Linked DNA regions of Homo sapiens. The protein of the gene in region 2 purifies or fractionates together with the protein of the main gene of each other region. This does not show direct contact. Each region holds a gene or a part of one and is shown on either strand. Other genes may lie near its edges.

Region 1 (11,728 bases), on a different chromosome or scaffold from region 2:
AACTGTGGGTACTCATTTATTTTATTCTTTTGTAAATCACAGCCACCATTCATTATTTACTAGGTTAAGATGAATAGACACTGAATCAAAGTTATTCATCAACAAAAAAGAACAGTTACTAATGGAAAGTTATTAAAATAAGTTCTATAAGAGTACAATTTTGAGGTTTATTTTTTGTATTTTTATTATTTGTGCGAAGAACCATTATTGAGTTTGCAAGATAAGATGTATTTGTATTTTCTAGTGTCTTTTTATTTATAACAACACTTTTTTGGCAATCAGTTTGTAGCTGTGCCCTTATTTTTATAGATAGTTTGCCATTTCTTGGGTTTAATGTTTAACAAGGCTATAGAAGTTTAAAATAGTGGACAAATGTTTGTGAATACACTTTTAAAAAATTGTTTTAAAAGAGAAAAGCGGTCTTGCTTTGTTGCCCAGACTGGAGTGCAGTGGCATAATCATAGCTCACCGCAAGCCTCAAATTTTTGTGCTCAGATGATCCTTTTCATCTCAGCCTCCTGATTAGCTGGGACTATAGGCGTGTGCCACCATGCCCAGCTAATTTTGAAATTTGCTTGTAGAGATGGGATCTCACTCTGTTGTCCAGGCTGGTCTCAGAATTCTGGTGAGTGATCCTCCCACAGTGGACTTCCAAAGTGCTGGGATTACAGGTGTGAGCCACCATGCCTGGCCCCATGAATACACTACTAATATTATTTGTAAATATGTATTTTATAATGTACAATGCTTGGAAAATTTTCAGAGTATTCTAGTTTAAAAAATTTTTTCTAATTCTGTAAATTCTATTACAAGTATGTTGTTTATTACAACTCATTACAACTACCTAAATTTTAGGTGTTAACTGTATTTAAGTAAATGTGTTATTTTTGCATTTCATAGCCAGAAAATACTGATGTTCACTTAAAGATATTCAGCAATTAAAATGTTAAAACTTGTACATGCATTCATTGATTTTGTTGTGCTTATGTTTAGCAATTTTTAAGAAGCTTTTAAAATATAATATAGACATAGTTCAGAATTTTGATGTAATAGAAGCAATTCCCTCTGGCTACAACAGCTGCCTGCCTGCTGGCCTTGCTTTTACCTGTTTTCATTGCATTGAGCACCATCCAGAGCTATCTGCCATCTAGAAAGTACTGTAAGATTTAATTAATTACAAAATTTCTTGGAAAAGACCTGTAACATAGACAGTAGAGTTATAAACATTTTATTTTGCTTTTATTTTTTCTTTTTGAAATACAAAATGTGCACATTGAGTTTACACAAACACGTGATGGCAAATTTCAGTGTACATGTATTGTACTACTCTTAATTTCTACACTGGTGATAGCAGGGCAGCTTTCAACATCCTATCTCTACACCAGAATAGATACCTGATTTATTGTTGCAAAGACAGTTGCAAATTTCCTCCTTCTGTAGCCTCTTGGTCTTTGTGATATTTCTACAAAACAGGGACGATGTGTGTGGCTTTAGTAATGTGGCAACTTTACAGTTTTGGCTAAGATGATTAAAAATAATCTGAATTATGATGAGCTAAATCATACTGTAATCTGGATTAGTTGTTGAGCACTTATTTTCTACTAAATCTTGGTAGTAGTTGTCAATGTAATGGAACCACTGGTGCTTTCAAAGTGAATTTTGCTTGCTAATTTTGCTTGCTGTTTGTTCTTAGTAGACAGTGGGGTAGTCAAGGTTTCTTTCTTTGTCCCTGAATGGCTTGTAATATAAATAAACATGCTGTAAGGAAGTCAGGGGAAAGAGGACAGATTTGGCCTTTAATGCTGTTAGGATTACTTGTTATTAAGCATTACTATATACTGGAGGATAGATATCCTGACCCTTTGCATATGTCTGTAAACATCCTTGTTTTGTTTGATGCCTTCTTCAACTTCCACTTAATGATTGATACTAATGATTGATACAATAGAAAACAGCCTGTAAGAAAGATTGAACAAATCCAAAATTATTATATAGGCCTTGGCTGTAACATATTATGGAAAATTAAATGCTTATTAAAATAAGTTTTATTAGGCATATGCTGATATCTGATAATAAACTAATTTTTAAATGTTTAATAATTTTTAAATGTTTAAAAATGCCAGATAAAACTAATTTCTAACAGAAGGTGGGAAGGCCATAGAAACTGGAACTATGTGTTTTTTTAATTGTTGTAATCTTGTTTCCTTAAAGTATATAAATGGAATTTAAATGGAATTACAGCATTCAAACATGAAAATTAATTTAATTTCTGGAAATTAAATGCAGATGTCACTATATTAGAAAACCATTCAAAATCCTAGGACTGAATACATACAAATGAGTAGCAAAAAACACTGATATTTTAAAATCACTGATATGTGAAAGCCTCAATAATCCCATGGCTAAGGAACCAATAAAACTATATGCCAGATTCTATTACTTTTGAATATTCACAGAGTATGAAATGAGTTAGACCATCCCCTGAACTCAGTGGCATTATGAAAAGGATGCAAATTTATAACTGAAAGCTCAAATCTTTTGGGGATTGCTTTATATTAAAACAAAGCTTGTTTGCATAATATGCTTCAGTGTCAAGCTGAGCAATCTATGCTAAAAGTGGTAGCTCCAACTTTAAGGGTGGTAGAATAGTTCACATTTGTCTGTTGGATTCAGGATCTATTTGACAAGTTAAATCACATTTTCAAAGAGCTGCATGGAGCGCATTATGTTTTCATCCTGTAAGGGAGAAACACAGAGCGATTAAATTCAGCATATCTGCAAGGAAAAGTACACTATTTTGCCCCTGAGTATTGCCTCCTCCCATCAACCACCTCAACCACCTATGCCAAAAGCTCAAATATTAAGTGTTTGCAAATGTAAATGCCATTCTATTCTATCCATTTTCCACATAGATGACTATGAAGGACCCATTTTATATTTTGTGGAGTCTATTGACCAGGCATTAAACCACTTTATTTAAATCTTTACTTGGTATTAATAGAGGATATTTCTCAAATCATAATGCCAAAATGGAAACTACAGAGGTGCAGAGGTGTGTCAAAGCAAATGAGAATTTTGGCATTCTATGTAGATCACAGGCCAAATCACACAGACTTTTATACAGGTACAAGGAAAATTTGTGTGTATGAGCCAGCAGTTCATGAAGATTGGAGGCTGGCGCATAGGAGGCAGGGTGGTGGATTAAGAGGTAACATGTTTGCAGTAATCATCTCTCTTTCTGTCTGCTAGTTATGGCTAAAGCTGCATGGCCTGAAGGAGCCTTTAAAAATGAATGGTCTCTCAATTACAGAGAAAGAATTGGGGAGCAGAAACCACTGCTCAGTGGCTGTGTTCAGTTTAGCATATTCTTTAGAAATGAGTTAGGGGACAGACTTTGGGCATTATTGGAGCACTTGTCAGTTGCATGTGAATAGCACTTACTGAGCTGTTTATGGTAGTGGTAAATGGTGGCTGAACCAATAATGGCTTCCACTGCTAGAAACCAAGTAACATCACCGTCAAGCAGCTTAATGTCACCAAATTAATTCTCTCAAAGACCACTGCATGGAAATCCAAGTTGAGAGACAAGCAGACATCCAGAAAAGTAAGAACAACAATTTAAAAATAAAGAGAAAAACTAAAGAAACAACGGATTTCTTTGTTTTCAGGATTATTTGAAAAATTCTTTTTTTCTTTTTTTAGTTTTGAGGCAGAGTCTATTTCTGTTGCCCATCATTCTGGAGTGCAGTGGCACAATCATGGCTCAACAGGGATCAAGTGATCTTCCTGCCTCAGCCTCCCAAGTAGCTGAGACTTCAGCCACGTGCCACCGTGCCCAGCTAACTTAATTTTTTTTTGTAGAGATAGATAGGGTCTTGCTATGTTGCCCACATTGGACTCAAAATCCTGGCCTTAAGTTATCTTCCCGCCTCAGCCTCCCATAGTGCTGGGATTACAGTTGTGAGCTACTGTACCAGGCCTTAACAATTTTTAACTGTGGTTCTGCCCACACATCAAGTCAAATAATTCTAAGTAAGCTAACACTGGTTTCTTTGATAACAGGCTACTACCTGGAGTTCTCTTCAGAGAAAATTTTCCACTGTTTATTTTTTGTGACTGAAGACCATTAGTGAGTTCAGTCAAAGAGCCATTTCTTGTCCACATACACTAAAACAATGACTTTTCTCTTAGAAATCAGATAGAAGCTTGGCCTGTTGTGATGCCATACTTGGCTATCTAGGAATTCTAATGCTGTGGAGATATGATAGATAATATATGAGTGATGCTAAGTTTTGGCAAAGAGCAATTCAAATCTCATGTATGTTTTATCCTCCATGAATACTCTCTAAGGAATTTGGGAATCAACACAGTACATGTACAACTTTTGTATCCCCAGGGTTTCCTCCATAGCCTGACTCAGTGGGCACTCTAAATGTTGATTATGTAATTGGTGCTTGTTTTCAGAGTGGTAGGCTTATGCTGCATGTTGTAGAAGTGGTAAACTTAGGCATATGATCTCTATATTTCGCCCAGTTCATGGTAGCTAGCTGCTAATACTCAGTTTAGCTGTTATGATAGCTGAATTGATAGTTATTACACTTTCATTACTTACTTTTTGGCAGCTTTCAATGAACTCATCTATGGTAACAACCCCATCTTTATTTTTGTCCATTTTCTGTTCAGGAAGAAAACAAAAATTGTATTTAGACTTATCCCTTAATACCCTCACACCTGGACCAAATGAGCTGAAGCTGATAAAAAGAAAACCTAGCTGCTTATTTATTTCACGTGGAGGAACTGTTTCAGAGCAGGAACCAGCAGTTTTTTAGAGATAAAAATGATAGGGCCAAATGCTTCTGGCTTTTCCCTTTTCAATATAATGTGGTGAAGATGTAGAGTCACTCTGTCCTAGGTAAAATCCCACCTTCTAGATGTGACAGAGCTTGCGCAATTTGCTGAAACTTTCAGAGCTTGCTTTTTGTCTCATCTGTAAAATGAGATTAATGAGGATTTATAGGATTCTTGTAAAAACTGAATGAAAACAAAACTTGTGAAACATGAGAACTGTTTAGTGTTGTATCTTGGATTTAGTGAATGTTCAATAAATGCAGTTATCAGCATTGTAAATTCAAAACCAAAGCTATTAAATTAATAGGATGCTAAATACTGTTTTGTTTCAGTAAAAATTATTTTCCTTTGCTCTCTTTTGAATCATCGTGGTGCATGGCAAACATCAGGAAATTTTCTCCTAACTTCATGCCCTCTTGACTTCTGTTTTAATTCCTACCTGAAAAAATGTTTCAACGTGTTGTCTGGGAGCATCTTCTTTGAGGACAGGATATGTACATTTACCCATCATATCGTATATTGCTTTCATTATATCAAGCATTTCCTGAAAAATAAAAGGCACTCACGTGAGGCTGCACACATGTATGAAGAAACCAGTCTAAGAAGCTCTGACAGATTTTTCCTACTCAATTTTAAATTTTTGACTTTTTGTTTGTTGGATTCTTTGTTAGACGACTGTTGGTTGTCCCAAAGGAAAAGGCAACAAACAGCTTTCTGCCTTAAGAGCAGAAGAATCAGAATTTAAGAATGAATTCTGATCTCTTGGTTTCAAAAGGAAGCAAATTTCCATGTATCTACCATAGTCAGGAAAAGAATATGCTGGCTTAATGTTTGGATTTCTATAGACTTTAAGTAGACTATGTTTATTTAATTGCATTATATATCTTATGTGTTGATCATCAGTTTCCATCTATTGAGAATCAAATATACGGCACATCGTATATTGAGAAAAAACACCATTTAGAATTAGTGAAATTAATTGGTAAGTCTTAAGGTTCATTAGGGTTTTTGTTGTATTTTTCCTACTGTGGCTTTAACTTAAGTCACATGTGAAGACTAGTCAAAAAATTTTGACCCTGGGAAACACCTTTAAATTTTGTTATTAACTTTTTCTCTAAAACAGTCTAATTTTTGCCTTACCACTTTCATTCTTATGAGAGTAAAAATAATCTCTAATAACTTAAACATTTAGATTTATTGTTGCACATTTGTTTCACGTGAAAGATCTCTCAATTAGGTTAATACAGAGCGAATATATATTTACTTTTAAGAGTATTCAATTATAAATGATAGAGTAATTTGTAAACAGGTGAAACCTTTTAAGATGTTTTAAGCATAGATAAGTAGCAAGTAGTTTGTTAGACACAGGCAGAATTCTTGAGATGTGTTAAACACAGAGGTAAGAATTGAAGAACAAGAGATATTTAAGGTATCCTAAGTATCTGGGTAATAAATATTCATGATATAAAAATATACAAGAAGCACTATTTAGGATATGCTCCATATACATGAACACAATAGCCATAAGGTCTTAATTTGGCACCCACTAGTGATACCTATTCTGGCCCCAGGTGTCCTCTGTGCAAGAAACACAAATGAAACCCATTACTACTTATCAGGCTATACTCGTGACCTGGCACACTTGCACCTGTGTCTCTCCAGTAGCGCAAGTTCATGTCATTTGCTGTTGGCCCTGGGCACCTTTTGTCTGTGGGGCCTCTTGCTCAAAACTCAATTCTGGGGAAGTCTCGTGAGGCAAAGAGAGACAGGACATAGGCACACTGAGAATGCCCAGGATTTAGGGAGTGGTCTTTCAACCCCATTTGCAGCCTGTCCTGCGTGGTTAACTTACTCCATCCCTTTCTTTACTTCTCGCTGTGTTTTAAATTGGTTTAATAAACTGTGTAATACGAGTATCTTAATTTGGTCTGTGAACCTTGTTTCCTGGATAGTCTGCCTCAACGTGCATTTGGAGACCCCACCATTGCGTCAGGTCATTCCACAATCCCCATGATTGTAAAATTTCATTTCCTTATGGATCACATGCTGTGGGGAAAAGAAAGGCTTCAGGCTAAATGTTGAAACATGGGTTGGATACATTTTCTTTCTATCTGATTCCAACCATGATCTTTATTCCATTCACAGTATTTATTAAGATGCCAGCAGGAAACAAGGGTGTAATCTTTATGTGTTATATATTTACTTTGGAGCTTCACCATAAACTACTTCTATCCCAAGTTTTTAATTGTACATCTTTCTTCCACTACATAAAATATTTTGGAATTTCCTCAAAAAAACTTTTCAAATTAATAATTGCAATTAATATTTTAAAGTTAAGAAATGAAAATGGTCCAAATTACTGTGATGTTGGTGAGGCATCCCTTACCTCTTTAGTGATGTAGCCATCTTTATTTATGTCATACAGATTAAATGCCCAATTGAGTTTTTCTTGTACTGTCCCCCGGAGCAAAATGGAAAGACCTTTGATGAAATCCTGAAAAGAAATAAAAATTCAATTTTATATGACATTTTTAAAAAAACAAAAACAAAAAAAACAAATGATGTAAGTAAGGGCTACAACCCTCTGGATCTTGAACATTTAGCAAAATGATTGATGTGTTATTGGTTGTCTAGTTTTCAGACTTCTCTGTGGGCATAAATCACTCCTTAGTCTTAACATTTTCATATTCTAATTGGAAACTGAGTTAAATCAATGGTCATACTGGAAATTGTACCAGTGCGTACCCACACAGCTAGAGGCTTGAGTATAAGTGGTATTGGCTTTCCACTGCAAGTGCACATGATTTACTAAAAGAATCTAATAATAGTTTTTTCAAAAAAATACAAGTGCACACATAACACACTTCAATGAAAAACCGTTTGCTAATAAGAAATGTGGCTGTCCATAAAAGATAAACCAATTGTGGTCTTTAATTAGAAATCCAGTTATAATTTACATGTGGACAGTGGGTAAGAGCATGGAACTGGAAAGGACAGACTGCCTGGATTCACCCTCCAGCTATATTACTGGATGGCTTTGTGTCTTCAGGCAACTTAACATCCCTTTGCCTCAATTTTCGTATCTGTAAAATGGAGCTAATAATAGTATCTACCTCTTCACAATTTTATGAGGATTAAAAAAGAGGCTGCTTATAACAGTCCTTGGCAATGACATTGGCTATGTAAGTTTTTGTTAAGTAAATGGAGCCCTCAGTTTGTATCCTGGTTAGATTGCATTGCAGACTGGCCAGATTAACTTGATTAAATTCATTTAGTGTTTTTTTTTTTGTTTTTTTTTTTTTTTTTGAGATGGAATCTCGCACTGTTGCCCAGGCTGGAGTGCAGTGGCACAATCTTGGCTCACTGCAACTTCCACCTCCCACCTCCCAGGTTCAAGCCATTCTTCTGCCTCAGCCTCCCGAGTAGCTGGGACTACAGGCACCCGCCACCATGCCTGACTAATTTTTGTATTTTTGGTAGAGATGGGGTTTCACCATGTTGGCCAGGTTGGTGTCGAACTCCTGACCTTGTGATCTGCCCACCGCCGCCTCTCAAAGTGCTGGGATTACAGGCGTGAGCCACCACGCCTGGCCAGATTTCTTGTTGTTATGTACAGCAGGGTTAACGTTACAATGTGCTGTATTCAGTTTATAATCCACTTTTAGGTAGGAATGAAAGCAGAGGGGAAATCCAAAAGTCTTCTGGGTGAATTTGCATTATATCTCCCTTTCTCACATTCCTTCCTTTTATAGCTGTATTTCTATCTGAATTTCTCAAAATGTTTTTTCTTTTTTAAATAAGTAACATCCATATAGTTCAACATTTAAAAATTGTGTAAGCTGCCTGGTGAAAAATCTTTCTTCCCTTCCTGGACCCAGCCACCTGTTCCTTTCACTCATAGACTACTGGCATAAATAGTTTGTATTTACTTCCAAGGAATTTTTGTGCATACACAAGTATAAGATATATTTGTTTTACTAGCTAACAGACTTCTATACTTTTTTTTCCACTTAAGCATAAATCAGGGAAACAATTTGAGTTTCCATTGTATATGTAAATACATCGTAGTTTATTTAACCAAATTGTTCTTTTACATTTTTTCTCATCATTATTTCTAGGTATTTTAATATTTCTGTTGCTGTTGTAAATGAGATATTTTTTTCTATCATATATTCTAAACTAGTTGTTTGTATGTATGAAAGCCATTGATTTCTGTATGATAATTTTATACCCTGTCAATTTGCTGACATACGTTGGTTTTCTTCTGGGTTTTCATGTGTGCAATATTAGCTGCAAATGGAATTAATTTTACCTTTTTTTCTAATTTTTATATGTTTACTTTTTTCTAATTATATGGCCTAATATATATAGAACAGTGTTACATAATGAAAATGATAATAGATATTCTTAGTTTTTTCTTGAACTTGAGAATATTTCAATTCGCTTTTAAGCATGATACTTACTTTTATCATGGTAAAGAATTATACAACCCTTCCACTTAAGCAAATTTATCAAGAATGGCCACAGACCTTTTTTAGCAAAAATGAAAAAGACAAAAACAGAAATAATTGTCAAATTCATATTGCAAGGGACCCTGAATAGCCCAGTCAATTTTAAGAAAGAAAAACAAACTTGGAGGACTCACACTGCCCAATATCAAAACTTAGTACAAAGTTACATTAATCAAAACAGTGTGGTACTGGCATAAAGACAGATATATAGAACAGTAGAATAGAATTGAGTCTAGATATAAACCAGCTGTCTGTGGCCAATTGATTTTCGATAATGGTGCCAAGACCATTCAATAGCTATGGAAAGAATAATCTCAATATATGGTGCTGTGGCAACTGGATCACCATACTTAGTTTGCTTCCCATTGGCATGAAGGGTAGAATGTCAAGTGAGAGAAAAACAAGATTCCAGAGAAAGCCACAAGGAATTCCAATATTTGGCAGGTACAGAGAGGAGAAGCTGGCAAAGCATCTTGAAAAGAAGTTGCTAAAGAAGTGAGTCAGGAGAACAGAGCATTTCCCTAGGAAAGGATTGTTCATTTTGCTCCAAGGTTGGAAAAATGTTCACTGGACCAGCAACATGGAGGTCACCAGCAAGTGATAGGGAACGGTCCAGTGGAGTAGGAGTGAAGAGTAATTTTTAATGAGGAGCACTTTGAATACTGAAGAGAAGAATCTAAAAAGAGTAAGAGTCAGAAATGGGCTGTGCTCTTGAGAAGGTGGGGAGGATCCAGAACATGGGTAGATGGGCCGATCTGAGAAGGGAGTTGATACATGAGACAGAAGAACATGGTGTGGATGCCAGCAGCTGCTTTGCAGGTGGGAAGATGACTGTGTTTCTGTCCGATAGCTTTAGTGAGTGTGAGCTGTTTGAGAGTGAGGAGCCTGGTAGAAGAGGTAAGAATCTGAGGTTTGAGGAGAGAGGCAGAAGCTCTGATACTAAGCAGTAAGATGACATGCAAATTAGAGAAAGGGAGACCTCCCTCAAATTATTTCCCTGCCATATTTTAGAAAATTATTTATGACATAGAATGTAGTTTAGTTAAAAGGTAATGACAGCCCTTGGAGGTATGAGTGTACATCTTGCACAACCAGCAGGCTGGGGATCATGGCTCATGCCTGTAATCCCAGCACTTTGGGTGGTGGAGGTGGGAAGGTTGTTTGAGTCCAAGAGTTTGCAAGCAGCCTGAGCAACGCAGCCAGATCCAAATTAACAGCAAGAAAAACAAATTAACTGGGTATGGTGGTGCACACCTGTTGTCCCAGCTACCTGGGAGGCTGAGATGGGAATCACTTGAGCCCAGAAGGTCGAGGCTACAGTGAACTATGATTGCACCACTGTGCTTCAGCCTGGATGACAGACCAAGACTCTGTCTCAAAAAAAAAAAAAAAATCCTTAGCTTTTTCAGAAGGCATAAAATATACATTGCAGAACATAGAGCCTTATTCAAGGAAGATTGCTGAGCAGTTTTGAAAGGCTAGATGAGATTGATTGTTATCAATGTAAACGATATTTTTAAAAATTCACAGCGTAGTAATAATATGTCATTAATTGTAAGGGGAGCTGGCCACAGGGTCTTTGAAAACATGCTTAGAGTATTGGTTCTCAAAATATAATGTGCAACACAGTCACCTGGGGAGTGTGCCAAAAGATTTATGGGACCTACTCCAAGAATTATGATTCATTAGGTTGAAGTGGGACCCCAAAATTTACATGTCTGACACATTCCAAGGGGAAGCCTGTACTGCTTCCAGGGATCACACTTTGAGAATCACTGGCCTACAGCACTCATCACTGGCATTGACCTCACCACCACACAAAACAGCAGAGAAACAATGAAAGATTTAAAGATAGCACTTTTGGGGAATCCCCCCAAGATGGCTACATAGGAACAGCTCCAGTCTACAGCTCCCAGCATGAGCAACGCAGAAGATGGGTGATTTCTGCATTTCCAACTGAGGTACCAGGTTCATCTAAACTGGGACTTGTTGGACAGTGGATGCAGCCCACAGAGTGTGAGCCGAAGCAGGGTGGGGCATCGCCTCACCCAGGAAGCGCAAGGGGTTGGGGAATTCCCTTTCCTAGCCAAGGGAAGCTGTGACAGATGGTACCTGGAGAATCAGGACACTTCCTGCCAATATTGTGCTTTTCCAACAGTCTTAGCAAACGGCACACCAGGAGATTATATACTGCACCTGGCTCAGAGTGGCCCACACCCACAGAGCCTTGCTCACTGCTATCACAGAAGTCCGAGATCGAACTGCAAGGCAACAGTGAGGCTGAGGGAGGGGCGTCCACCATTGCTGAGACTTGACTAGGTAAAGCAGCCAGGAAGCTCAAACTAGGTGGAGCCCACTGCAGCTCAAGG
Region 2 (12,849 bases):
CCACCGCACTCCAACCTGGGCGACAGGGCAAGACTCCATCTAAAAAAAAAAAAAAAAAACCTAAATAAAATTTAAAAGCTAGTCCCTTGACCACACCTGCCCACTATGGCCTGCACAATTAGATCTTAATTGATTTCAGTCTGCTCCAGGCCCACTGCCCCTGTCCCCATCTGCCTGGCAAGAAATGTCACAGCTACTTTGGGGTCCCATCCATCCTCCTTCTTCTGTAGAGTGATGTCTGATGACTCAGCTTGGTTGCTGCTAGAAAAATGGGGGATGCCCAGGCCCTTGGTTAATGAGGCCACCATCATAACTTCTGCTCCTTTGGTTTTTGTGGGGTTTTGGGGTGATATTTTTTTTTTTTTTTGGTGAGTTTGTGTGTGAGACAGTCTCACTCTGTCGCTAGGCTGGAGTGCAGTGGCGTGATCTTGGCTTACTGCAATCTCCACCTCCTGGGTTCAAGTGATTCTCGTGCCTCAGCCTCCCAAGTAGCTGAGATTACAGGCACGCACCACCAAGCCCGGCTAATTTTTTGTACTTTTAATAAAGACGGGGTTTCAACATGTTGGCCAGGCTGGTCTCAAACTCCTGACCTCAGGTGATCTACCCGCCTTGGCCTCCCAAAGTGCTAGGATTACAGGCATGAGCCACCATGCCCAGCCTTGTTTGTTTTTGCTCTCACAGGCTGGAGTGCAGTGGTGTGATCTTGGCTCACGGCAGCCTTGAACTCCTGGGCTCAAGCGATCCTCCTCCTGCCTCAGCCTCCTGAGTAGCTGGGACGACAGGTGTGCACCACTATGCCTGGCTAATTTATTTTTAGTAGTGACGGGGTCTTGCTATGTTGCCTAGGCTGGCCTCGAACCCCTGAGCTCAAGTGATCCATCTGCCTCAGCCTCCCAAAGTGCTGGGATTACAGGCGTTAGCCACTGTGCCCAGCCCTCCTTTATTATTTACTGGGGTTCTTCTACTTGCTGCTGCAGAGTGGCTAGAAGATCCTCCCCAGAGTGGTCCCCCCAGCCCACAGCCATCCTCCCATCTTGCTGGCAAACAGGCTGTGTTCTCTCTGCCTCCCTGCACCTCCCTCATGCTGGAGTGAGCTCCATCTTTCCTTCTCCCAAAGTCCGTCTCTCCATCCTCCTCCCCACTTCTGGAGGAGATCCCAGGATTGCACCATTCAGTCCCAGCCTCTCTCCTCTTGAGACCGGAGCAGGAAAAGGAGCCACTCACACCAGGACTTTTGAGTTTTCTTCCTACTGAATATCCTATCGTCCATACTAAGGAAGGAAAAGACTTTTCTTGTGTAATACAATCTGCCCCAAGGTAGCCTTATGTTATTGAATAAAAGGCAAGGATGGGCCGGGTGTGGTGGTGTGTGCCTGTAATCCCCACTATTCGGGAGGCTGAGGCAGGGGAATTGCTTGAACCTGGGAGGAGTAGGTTGCAGTGAACCGAGATCCCACCACTGGACTCCAGCCTGGGCGACAGAGCGAGACTCCATCTCAAAAAAAAAAAAAAAAAAAAAAAAAGCAAGAGTGATGCCTTCTTCCACCCTTGAGGTTTGTTCAAATCCAGCCGACAGGAGTTCCCTGAGGTTACTGAGGAAAACTCAGGGGTCAGTTCCCTAAGGGCTGCTCTGGGCACCTCAGCAGAGATGGCTGGGGCTGCCTCGGGGCCTTAGTGCAGCGGCACCACTGCATCCAGAGATTCATGCCTCTTGTGGCTCAGCCAGCCCCCAGGGGGATGGGAGGTAGAAGGGGCTTGTTCTTCCAGTTATACAGTAAGAGCGGGCTCTCTCGGTGGGCGGGTGGCCCCGTCTGTGGCCGCATTCCCTCCCCTCCCCAGCAATACTCCCTGGCTTCTCTGGCTGAGGCTGCATCTCATCCGCAGGTGGGGGTGAACTCAGATGACTCAGATGATGGATAGTGGGCCAGGGTGGGCCCCCATGACCTGTGTATCTACAGGAAGGCCCACCTGTCCTTTGGCTTCAGCTTCTGTTTCCTGACTTATAGAGAGAGGTGGCATAACAGCTCAAGATATGGGCTCTGGGGTCAGGCAGCCCATGTGCATGGCTGCTTTGCTGTGTGATCTTCAATAAGTAGCTTGCCCTCTCTGTGCGTTCATTTCCTCTTTCATCACATTGGGAATAATGATGAGTACCTCAGGGAGTTATGAAAATTAAAACTAGTTAACTTGTATAAAATTGTTACCATGACAACTAGAAGAGAGGTGATAGATAAATGTTAGATATTTTATCATTATTATTATTACTTGTTTGTTTTCTGAGACAGAGTTTCACTCTTGTTACCTAGGCTGGAGTGCAATGGCGCGATCTCGACTCACTGCAACCTCTGCCTCCCGGGTTCAAGTAATTCTCCTGCCTCAGCCTCCCAAGTTGCTGGGATTACAGGGGCCCACCACCACGCCCAGGTAATTTTTGTATTTTTAGTAGAGATGGGGTTTTGCCATGTTGGCCAGGCTGGTCTCGAACTCCTGACCTCAGATGATCCACCCGCCTCAGCCTCCCAAAGTGCTGGGATTGCAGGCGTGAGCCACCGCGCCCAACCTGATATTTTATTATTTTTAAAGTGATGATTATTCCTAATTCCTGAGACGTGTCTCTCTTTCAGCGTCTTCCTATCTTTTTGGCCACATCTCTCAGTGTGTTCCCAGCTCTCTCCTACTCTCCATCTACCCACTTCTGTCTGTTCTTCTCTTTTGGCCTCAGTCTTTCTGTGACCTTGGTAAACTACTTACCCTCTCTGTGCCTCAGTTTCTCCATCTGTCAAACAAAGTTCATAGCAGCATCTACTTCTTAGATTTTTTTGAGGAATACATTTGTTATTGCATTTAAAATACTTAGAAGAGGGCCAGACATAAGGTAAGTTCTTGACCTCCTTACAATTAATTTAACATATTCTAAAGGTTAATTAATAGTAAGCTACCATTGTTGTCTGTTGTTATTTTCTCTCTCCGTCAGCCTTCATCTCTCCCTCTCCTGTCTGTCTCTCTCTATTTTTGTATCTCCCTTTATCCATCCACTCAACACATCTGCAGTGAATAGTTTTTATCAGTGAACATAACAGACACCAGCCCTGTCCCCAAGGGGCTCCCACACTAATGAAAGAAACAGCTACTAGAAAAATAAACACACAAGACGGGCGCGGTGGCTCTCGCCTGTAATCCCAGCACTTTGGGAGGCCAAGGTGGGCGGATCACCTGAAGTCAGGAGTTTGAGACCAGCCTAGCCAACATGGTGAAACCCCATCTCTACTAAAAATACAAAAATTAGCCAGAATTGGTGGCAGGCACCTATAATCCCAGTTACTGGGGAGGCTGAGGCAGGAGAATCGCTTGAACCCGGGGGGCGGAGGTTGCAGTGAGCAGAGATCGCACCACTCTACTCCAGCCTGGGTAACACAGTGAGACTCCATCTCAAAGAAACAAACAAACAAACAAAAAAGAAAAAAAAAGAAAAAGAAACACATAATAATACGTGTATACATTGTACCAAATTCTCTAAAGGAGCATGTAGGATGCTATAAGATGAAAAAACAAATAGGGGAGTGAAGACCCTGAATCAGACTAGGGGAGGGCTCAGGGAAGGGCTCTGAAGAAGTAACACTTGAGTTGAGACACAATGAAGAGAGCGAAGGGAGAAGTGTTGGAAGCGCATGGAAAACAAAGACAGAGCAACATGAGAGAAGACAGGAGGAAAGTGGAGACAGAGAAAGATAGACAGAGACAAAGGTGCAGAGCCACAGACAGAGAGACAGAGACAGAGATGGGAGGAGAGAGACACAGAGAAAGATGGACAGAGACAGGTGCGGAGACACAGACAGAGAGACAGAGACAGAGATGGGAGGAGAGAGACACAGAGAAAGATGGACAGACACACAGGTGCGGAGACACAGACAGAGAGACAGAGACAGAGATGGGAGGAGAGAGAGACACAGAGAAAGATGGACAGAGACATGTGCGAAGCCACAGACAGAGAGACAGAGACAGAGATGGGAGGAGAGAGAGAGACACAGAGAAAGATGGACAGAGACACAGGTGCGGAGACACAGACAGAGAGACAGAGACAGAGATGGGAGGAGAGAGACACAGAGAAAGATGGACAGACACACAGGTGCGGAGACACAGACAGAGAGACAGAGACAGAGATGGGAGGAGAGAGACACAGAGAAAGATGGACAGACACAGGTGCAGAGACAGACAGAGAGACAGAGACAGAGATGGGAGGAGAGAGACACAGAGAAAGATGGACAGACAGGTGCGGAGACAGACAGAGAGACAGAGACAGAGATGGGAGGAGAGAGAGACAGAGAAAGATGGACAGACACACAGGTGCGGAGACACAGACAGAGAGACAGAGACAGAGATGGGAGGAGAGAGAGACACAGAGAAAGATGGACAGAGACAGGTGCGAAGCCACAGACAGAGAGACAGAGACAGAGATGGGAGGAGAGAGAGACACAGAGAAAGATGGACAGAGACACAGGTGCGGAGACACAGACAGAGAGACAGAGACAGAGATGGGAGGAGAGAGAGACACAGAGAAAGATGGACAGACACACAGGTGCGGAGACACAGACAGAGAGACAGAGACAGAGATGGGAGGAGAGAGACACAGAGAAAGATGGACAGACACAGGTGCAGAGACAGACAGAGAGACAGAGACAGAGATGGGAGGAGAGAGACACAGAGAAAGATGGACAGACAGGTGCGGAGACAGACAGAGAGACAGAGACAGAGATGGGAGGAGAGAGACACAGAGAAAGATGGACAGAGACAGGTGCGGAGCCACAGACAGAGACAGAGATGGGAGGAGAGAGACACAGAGAAAGATGGACAGACACAGGTGCAGAGACACAGACAGAGAGAGAAGGCAAGGTGAGACAGAGACAGGAGGAAAGAGAGACACACAGGGGCAGACAGAGACAGACAGAGATCAGAGGGTCACAGACAGAGGTCAGAGGGAGAGCGAGAGAGAAGGGATCAGAGAGAGAAAGGGACAGGGACAGGGAAAAGAGAGACAGAGACAGAAACCTGCCAGGGCTTCCTGTTCTGTGGTCCCAGCCTATGTCCCGTCCTGCCCAGAGTTATCTGGGGGCGCACGGGCCCAGGACAGAGTTGGGGGAGGGTCTCACTTGGGATGCTTCCAGTCTGGCAGGTGAGAGAAACAGAGACAAGGGGGAGAGAGACAGAGATGGGACCAGAGAGGCAGAGGAAAAGAGAGCCAGAGAGAAAGAGAGACAGACACACGGGGTGGGCTGTGGGGGAAAGAAGTAAGGAAGGAGAAGGAAAGAGTGTTAGAGACCCAGGAGAGACAGAGAGACACAGAGACATTCCTGCCTCGTCGCGGTCACCTGCGGGCACTATCCCTCACCCGCGCCGGCTCCGCGGTCTACACCCACCCACTCCTTGGATGATCTCACCCGGCCTCGTGGCTGTAAACACCACCTCTCCCCTGATGAGTCCCCGCTGTTTCTCGGCAGTCCTGACCTCGGCCTGCCCCTCCGTGCACCCTCCGCGGTCTACGGCACCCTCTCACCCCCCACCCCCCTTCCCGCACCTATGCGTCTCCACAAGATCCGTAGAGCGCAAGCCAGCAGACCAAGCCTCCACGCCATCCTTGGCCCCTCTGCTCCTGGCCCCCCACTTTCCATCCATCGGGCAGTAACTTGGCTCCACATGCAGAGGGGACCCCGTGTCCATTCACCTCTCTTCTCCCTTGACCCCGTCACCTCCCACCTGGGCTGTTGCCACTGCCCCCCGCCCCGCCCCCACCATCACTCTCCAAGCTGGAAGTTTTTAAAAAGTAAATAAGATTATGTCACTCCATCCTCGTGCTTAAAATCCATTGCACTTAAGTAAAACCCAAGCTCCTTAATCCTGGTACGTAAACTCCTGCAGGCCCGCCCGGTTCCCGGTCTGCGCTCCTACCCGCCCTGCCCTCCTACCCGCCCTGCCCTCCTCTGGCTGGAGCCAAGTTCTCCCCTGCACCCCGCAACCGCCCCTGCTGCGGCGACCCTCCTCCTCCTCTTCCCTGGGATCTCAGCTTAAATGTTCCCCTTCTCTGAGTCTCCCCGACCACCACCTTATATGCTGGTCCCTGCAGTTTTCCTTTATGGTCTGTGCCCCCGGGTAGGACGCGATCCCCAGTGACGAGGACTTTGCTGGTTCCTCCTGTGGCCCCAGCACCTGCCGCAGAGCTCGGAGTGTGGTAGGCACTCAGCTGCTTTTCACTGAGCGAAGACTTTTTAGTTCTCCCGCTCACCGAGAGCCTACAATGTGCCTGGCACTGTGTGCCTTTCCCTGAATTACCTCTTTGAATCCACTTGGGAAATGGGGCATAATGGTCACTCCAGTTTTACAGTTGGAAAAACAGGCTCACAGGGGTGCAGTCACTTGCCCAAGGTTCCAAAAATAGTTCGTGATGTAGGCTGGATACGAACCTGGGGAAATTTGCTGGAGAAGCACAGAAAGAGAGGGATGAAGGAGGAGGGGAGAGAGAGAGAGAGATTTAATTTAAAAAGAGAAAGAACATGAGAGAGAACAGGAGAGAATGAGAGGAAATGAAAGAAAACACGAGAAAAATAATGAGAGAGAGAATGAGAGAAAGAAAGAAGAAGAGAAAGAGAAAATGAGAGATACAGGCAAGAGAGAGGTATCTCATGAGAGAGAATAAGAACATGAAAAGAGAAAGAATGAGAGAGAGAGAGAGAAAGAAAAAGGAGAGTGGAGTCTAGGATCTGGGCAGGGGTCTCCTCCCTGGGTCCCTAGACCCTGCTGCCAGCCCCTTCTGGGCCCCCAACCACTGCCTGGTCAGAGTTGAGGCAGCCTGAGAGAGTTGAGCTGGAAGTTTGCAGCACCTGACCCCTGGAACACATCCCCTGGGGGCAGGCCAGCCCAGGCTGAGGATGCTTATAAGCCCCAAGGAGGCCCCTGCGGGAGGCAGCAGGCTGGAGCTCAGCCCAGCAGTGGAATCCAGGAGCCCAGAGGTGGCCGGGTAAGAGGCCTGGTGGTCCCCCACTAAAAGCCTGCAGTGTTCATGATCCAACTCTCCCTACAGCTCCATGTCGCTGGATTCTCAGCCTCTGTGCCTTCTGTCTCCACATCTCTCTAGACAGATCTCTCACTGTCTCTAGTTAGGAGTCACTGTCTCTAGTTAGGGGTCTCTCTGTCTCTCTGAATCTATATCTCCATGTCTAACTCTCAGACTGTCTCTGAGGATATCTCTCAAGCACTCTGTCTCTCCGGCTCTGATTCTCTGTGTGTCTTCCCTCCATGCTTGTTTGTGGGTGGCTAGACACCATCTCTCCCCATTCACAGATGGCTAGATGCTTTCTCTAAACTTTCCTTTCTACCTAGTTCTCTCTCTCTCTCTCTTTTCCCATCTCTCTCTCTCTTTTTCTCTCTCAGTCTCTAAATCTGTCTCTCTAGGTTCTGGGTCCATGGATGGGAGAGGGGGTAGATGGTCTAGGCTCTTGCCTACCTAATAACGTCCCAGAGGGAAGAAAGGGAGGGACAAAGAGAGGGATGGAGAGACTTGGGCTGAAGATCCCCAGACACGGCTAAGTCTCAGTCCTCATCCCCAGGTGCTGACGTGATGGCCACAGCAGGAAATCCCTGGGGCTGGTTCCTGGGGTACCTCATCCTTGGTGTCGCAGGTATCTGAGTATGCGTGTGTGTGTCTGTCCGTGCTTGGGGGCACAGTGTTTGTTAATGTTCAGGTGTGACTCAGTGTCCTCTTGCTTGTGACTGCAAAGCTGCCTGTGAGACGGTACCGTGTTATCCGTCCCCCATGGCTGTGCCCCTGCAACTCCTTGTATCGTGGTAAATTTGTGTGTGGCAGTGTGCCTGGGTGTGTGGTTGTACCTGTGAGACTCTGACAGTTTGTGCCTCTGAATATCTGGTGGAGTGACAACAGTGTAATGATGATATGGGGACAGGGGAAGCCGAGGGTGCAGGAGATTGTGCTTCCTGGGGCGTGATCCATTGCTGGGAATCTGTGCCTGCTTCCTGGGTCTTCAGTCCTGAGATCCCCCTCTCCCATCCCCAAGGAACTCACCTCACAGGACTATAAAACGGTGTTTTGGTGTGCATGGGCTTGTGGCTTGGTGTGACTGTGGGCAAGGCTGGGAGAGGATAGGAGTGACTCGGCGCAGGACCGACTCTTTGAGCATCAGTCTGCGCAGACAAGTGACCCGATCCTTGCTCCCAGCAACAACTCCACCCCCTGAGCTTTAATTCACCCCGAAGGACCCGATCCTACTGCTATGAGCCTAGACTCCTCTGTTGAACCCCTCCTGACCGTGGCTTTGCACCGCGATGGCACCAGTCTCACCTCCAGAGCTCACCCCAGAGCCCTGACTCCGCCCCAGAAGCCCTGGTCCCACCTTCTGAGACTGCCTCTAGCCATAACCCAGCTCTTGAAGCCTTGATGGCGCCCCTGCGCTGTAACCCCAACCCTAGGAGCACTGATCCCGCCTTCTCAGCCCACCCCCATGCCCTGACTCTCCTCCCAGGAGCCCTGACTACCCTGAATCCCTGACCAGGCTCCTGCACCGTGATCACCGCCCCTGGGAGCCCTAGGCCTATATCCTGGACCAGCCCCTGAAGCTCCGATCATGACCCCTGCACCATAACCCCACCCCCAGGAGCCCTGGGTCCGCCCCCTGGGCCCGCCCCCAGCCCTGACTCGGCCCCCCAAGAGTCCTGACTGCTCCTGAAGCCCTGACCACGCCCCTGCTCGGTAACCCCTCCCCCAAGAGCCCTGGGCCCGCCTCCTGAGCCCGTTCCCAGCCCTGACTCCGCCCCGAGGAGCCCTGACTGCTCCTGAACCTCTGACCACGCCCCTGCTCGGTAAGCCCACCCCCAGGAACCCTGGGCCCGCCTCCTGGTCCCGATCCCATCCCTGACTCCGCCCTCAGGATCGCTCGTCTCTGGTAGCTGCAGCCAAATCATAAACGGCGAGGACTGCAGCCCGCACTCGCAGCCCTGGCAGGCGGCACTGGTCATGGAAAACGAATTGTTCTGCTCGGGCGTCCTGGTGCATCCGCAGTGGGTGCTGTCAGCCGCACACTGTTTCCAGAAGTGAGTGCAGAGGTAGGGGGAGTGGGCAGGGCCTGGGTCCGGGGGCGGGGCCTAATATCAGGCTCATCTTGGGGTGCTCAGGGGGAAACAGCGGTGAAGGCTCTGGGAGGAGGACGGAATGAGCCTGGATCCGGGGAGCCCCAGAGGGAAGGGCTGGGAGGCGGGAATCTTGCTTCGGAAGGACTCAGAGAGTCCTGACTTGAAATCTCAGCCCAGTGCTGAGTCTCTAGTGAACTAAGGCAAGTTCTTGTCCCTGAATTTTTGTGAATGAGGATTTGAGACCATGGTTAAGTAGCTCTTAGGGTGTTTAGCGAAGAGGGTGGGGTTGGGGTTAGGAGATGGGGATGGGAATGGGGTTGAAGATGAGAATGGAGGTAAGGATGTAGTTGCCACAAAACTGACCTGCCCTCCGTGGCCCACAGCTCCTACACCATCGGGCTGGGCCTGCACAGTCTTGAGGCCGACCAAGAGCCAGGGAGCCAGATGGTGGAGGCCAGCCTCTCCGTACGGCACCCAGAGTACAACAGACCCTTGCTCGCTAACGACCTCATGCTCATCAAGTTGGACGAATCCGTGTCCGAGTCTGACACCATCCGGAGCATCAGCATTGCTTCGCAGTGCCCTACCGCGGGGAACTCTTGCCTCGTTTCTGGCTGGGGTCTGCTGGCGAACGGTGAGCTCACGGGTGTGTGTCTGCCCTCTTCAAGGAGGTCCTCTGCCCAGTCGCGGGGGCTGACCCAGAGCTCTGCGTCCCAGGCAGAATGCCTACCGTGCTGCAGTGCGTGAACGTGTCGGTGGTGTCTGAGGAGGTCTGCAGTAAGCTCTATGACCCGCTGTACCACCCCAGCATGTTCTGCGCCGGCGGAGGGCAAGACCAGAAGGACTCCTGCAACGTGAGAGAGGGGAAAGGGGAGGGCAGGCGACTCAGGGAAGGGTGGAGAAGGGGGAGACAGAGACACACAGGGCCGCATGGCGAGATGCAGAGATGGAGAGACACACAGGGAGACAGTGACAACTAGAGAGAGAAACTGAGAGAAACAGAGAAATAAACACAGGAATAAAGAGAAGCAAAGGAAGAGAGAAACAGAAACAGACATGGGGAGGCAGAAACACACACACATAGAAATGCAGTTGACCTTCCAACAGCATGGGGCCTGAGGGCGGTGACCTCCACCCAACAGAAAATCCTCTTATAACTTTTGACTCCCCAAAAACCTGACTAGAAATAGCCTACTGTTGACGGGGAGCCTTACCAATAACATAAATAGTCGATTTATGCATACGTTTTATGCATTCATGATATACCTTTGTTGGAATTTTTTGATATTTCTAAGCTACACAGTTCGTCTGTGAATTTTTTTAAATTGTTGCAACTCTCCTAAAATTTTTCTAATGTGTTTATTGAAAAAATCCAAGTATAAGTGGACTTGTGCAGTTCAAACCAGGGTTGTTCAAGGGTCAACTGTGTACCCAGAGGGAAACAGTGACACAGATTCATAGAGGTGAAACACGAAGAGAAACAGGAAAAATCAAGACTCTACAAAGAGGCTGGGCAGGGTGGCTCATGCCTGTAATCCCAGCACTTTGGGAGGCGAGGCAGGCAGATCACTTGAGGTAAGGAGTTCAAGACCAGCCTGGCCAAAATGGTGAAATCCTGTCTGTACTAAAAATACAAAAGTTAGCTGGATATGGTGGCAGGCGCCTGTAATCCCAGCTACTTGGGAGGCTGAGGCAGAAGAATTGCTTGAATATGGGAGGCAGAGGTTGAAGTGAGTTGAGATCACACCACTATACTCCAGCTGGGGCAACAGAGTAAGACTCTGTCTCAAAAAAAAAAAAAAAAAAAAGACTTTACAAAGAGATGCAGAGACACTGAGACAGATAAACAAGCCACAAAGGAGACAAAGGAGAGACAGACAAACAGAAACAGACAGACCACAAGCCCAAGAGAAGCAGCCAGCATTCAGGACATAGGACATCGGGAAGCAGGATTAGATGAAGTCAGGGATCTGGAATGGGACTTCCAACAGATATGTTGCTGGGCTATGTTGTTATTGATGATGGTTCTGTCTTTGTTTCTCAGTCTCATTTAGTTCCTTTCTGAGCCCACATCCATTTCCACCTCTCTGTGTTTTGAATTCTGACTCTCCCTCTCTTCACAACAGGGTGACTCTGGGGGGCCCCTGATCTGCAACGGGTACTTGCAGGGCCTTGTGTCTTTCGGAAAAGCCCCGTGTGGCCAAGTTGGCGTGCCAGGTGTCTACACCAACCTCTGCAAATTCACTGAGTGGATAGAGAAAACCGTCCAGGCCAGTTAACTCTGGGGACTGGGAACCCATGAAATTGACCCCCAAATACATCCTGCGGAAGGAATTCAGGAATATCTGTTCCCAGCCCCTCCTCCCTCAGGCCCAGGAGTCCAGGCCCCCAGCCCCTCCTCCCTCAAACCAAGGGTACAGATCCCCAGCCCCTCCTCCCTCAGACCCAGGAGTCCAGACCCCCCAGCCCCTCCTCCCTCAGACCCAGGAGTCCAGCCCCTCCTCCCTCAGACCCAGGAGTCCAGACCCCCCAGCCCCTCCTCCCTCAGACCCAGGAGTCCAGCCCCTCCTCCCTCAGACCCAGGAGTCCAGACCCCCCAGCCCCTCCTCCCTCAGACCCAGGGGTCCAGGCCCCCAACCCCTCCTCCCTCAGACTCAGAGGTCCAGGCCCCCAACCCCTCCTTCCCCAGACCCAGAGGTCCAGGTCCCAGCCCCTCCTCCCTCAGACCCAGCGGTCCAATGCCACCTAGACTCTCCCTGTACACAGTGCCCCCTTGTGGCACGTTGACCCAACCTTACCAGTTGGTTTTTCATTTTTTGTCCCTTTCCCCTAGATCCAGAAATAAAGTCTAAGAGAAGCGCAGGTTCTGTTTGTAGTGTCCTCCTTGCTTCCCCTTCCATTCAAGAGATTCCAGCAAATGGCTTTCCCTCCATGGGTCGCATTTCCCTATCTGGGAAATGCGAGCTTTGACCAGGAGGGCCACAGAGTTTCAGAGGGAGGGGCCATTCCCTGGATAGTTAAGAGAAACCAGTGCCATGGATGTTGTCCAGTTTCTGAAAAGTCAGGTCAGCAAATGGTAACCGTAGAGATTTTCTTGCTTAGTTTAACTATTCAGCTTTAGTTGATCTATATTCATTTTTGTCTTCTTAACTGCATTTCAAGAATTTTTAATTTGCATGTGTCTCAGAAGTTGGCTGCTGCAGCTAGAGTCTAGTGGGGAGAATTGTGGCGAGGGCTACTGTGAGTGACAGCAACAGAGACCAAGGAGTAGAAAGAGGGAAGTTTGAGGGGCACAATGGGGCAACTGAGGGGCAAGGAGATGGGAGACTGAATAAGTATATAGATAATTTGAACAGTATGATTAACATACTCTATTTAATGGTCATATATGGAATGTTGCACCCAGTATCTGAAAAATATAGAATCATTTCAAAAGACATACAGCTACCAGAATGGCTAAAATTGAAAAGAATAACAGCATCAAGTCTTGGTTATATCTACAGCAGCTGTAACTCTCCTACATTGCTGGGGGTAGGGGGTAAAATGCTACAACCATTTTGGAAAACAGCTTGGCAGATTCTTAGAAAGACAGGCATACATCCACATGACGGCTAGCAATTCTACTCCTAGGTATTTAGGTAATAGCCATAGAAAACACTTCCCTAAGAATGTTTATAGTAGCTTCATGCATAATAATGAAATTGGAAATGC

What was found.
Region 1: the proteins of KLK4 (region 2) and KCNIP4 purify together in Homo sapiens (affinity purification with mass spectrometry; 2 studies listed by BioGRID and IntAct, with this or other methods). This does not show direct contact.

What each region holds. Positions count from the first base shown.
Region 1 is NC_000004.12:20,727,394-20,739,121, forward strand, and holds the end of KCNIP4 (Kv channel-interacting protein 4), read right to left. Parts: intron 7,343-11,728; coding exon 7,235-7,342; intron 5,393-7,234; coding exon 5,288-5,392; intron 5,165-5,287; exon of another isoform or gene 4,676-5,164; coding exon 4,613-4,675; coding exon of another isoform or gene 4,544-4,612; exon of another isoform or gene 2,737-4,543; coding exon 2,689-2,736; 3' UTR 1,213-2,688; downstream 1-1,212.
Region 2 is NC_000019.10:50,905,502-50,918,350, reverse strand, and holds KLK4 (kallikrein-4 isoform 1 preproprotein), read left to right. Parts: upstream 1-6,955; 5' UTR 6,956-7,012; intron 7,013-7,601; 5' UTR 7,602-7,612; coding exon 7,613-7,673; intron 7,674-8,936; coding exon 8,937-9,099; exon of another isoform or gene 9,100-9,111; intron 9,112-9,521; coding exon 9,522-9,772; intron 9,773-9,855; coding exon 9,856-9,992; intron 9,993-11,264; coding exon 11,265-11,417; 3' UTR 11,418-12,000; downstream 12,001-12,849. UniProt on the Homo sapiens protein: Has a major role in enamel formation. Required during the maturation stage of tooth development for clearance of enamel proteins and normal structural patterning of the crystalline matrix.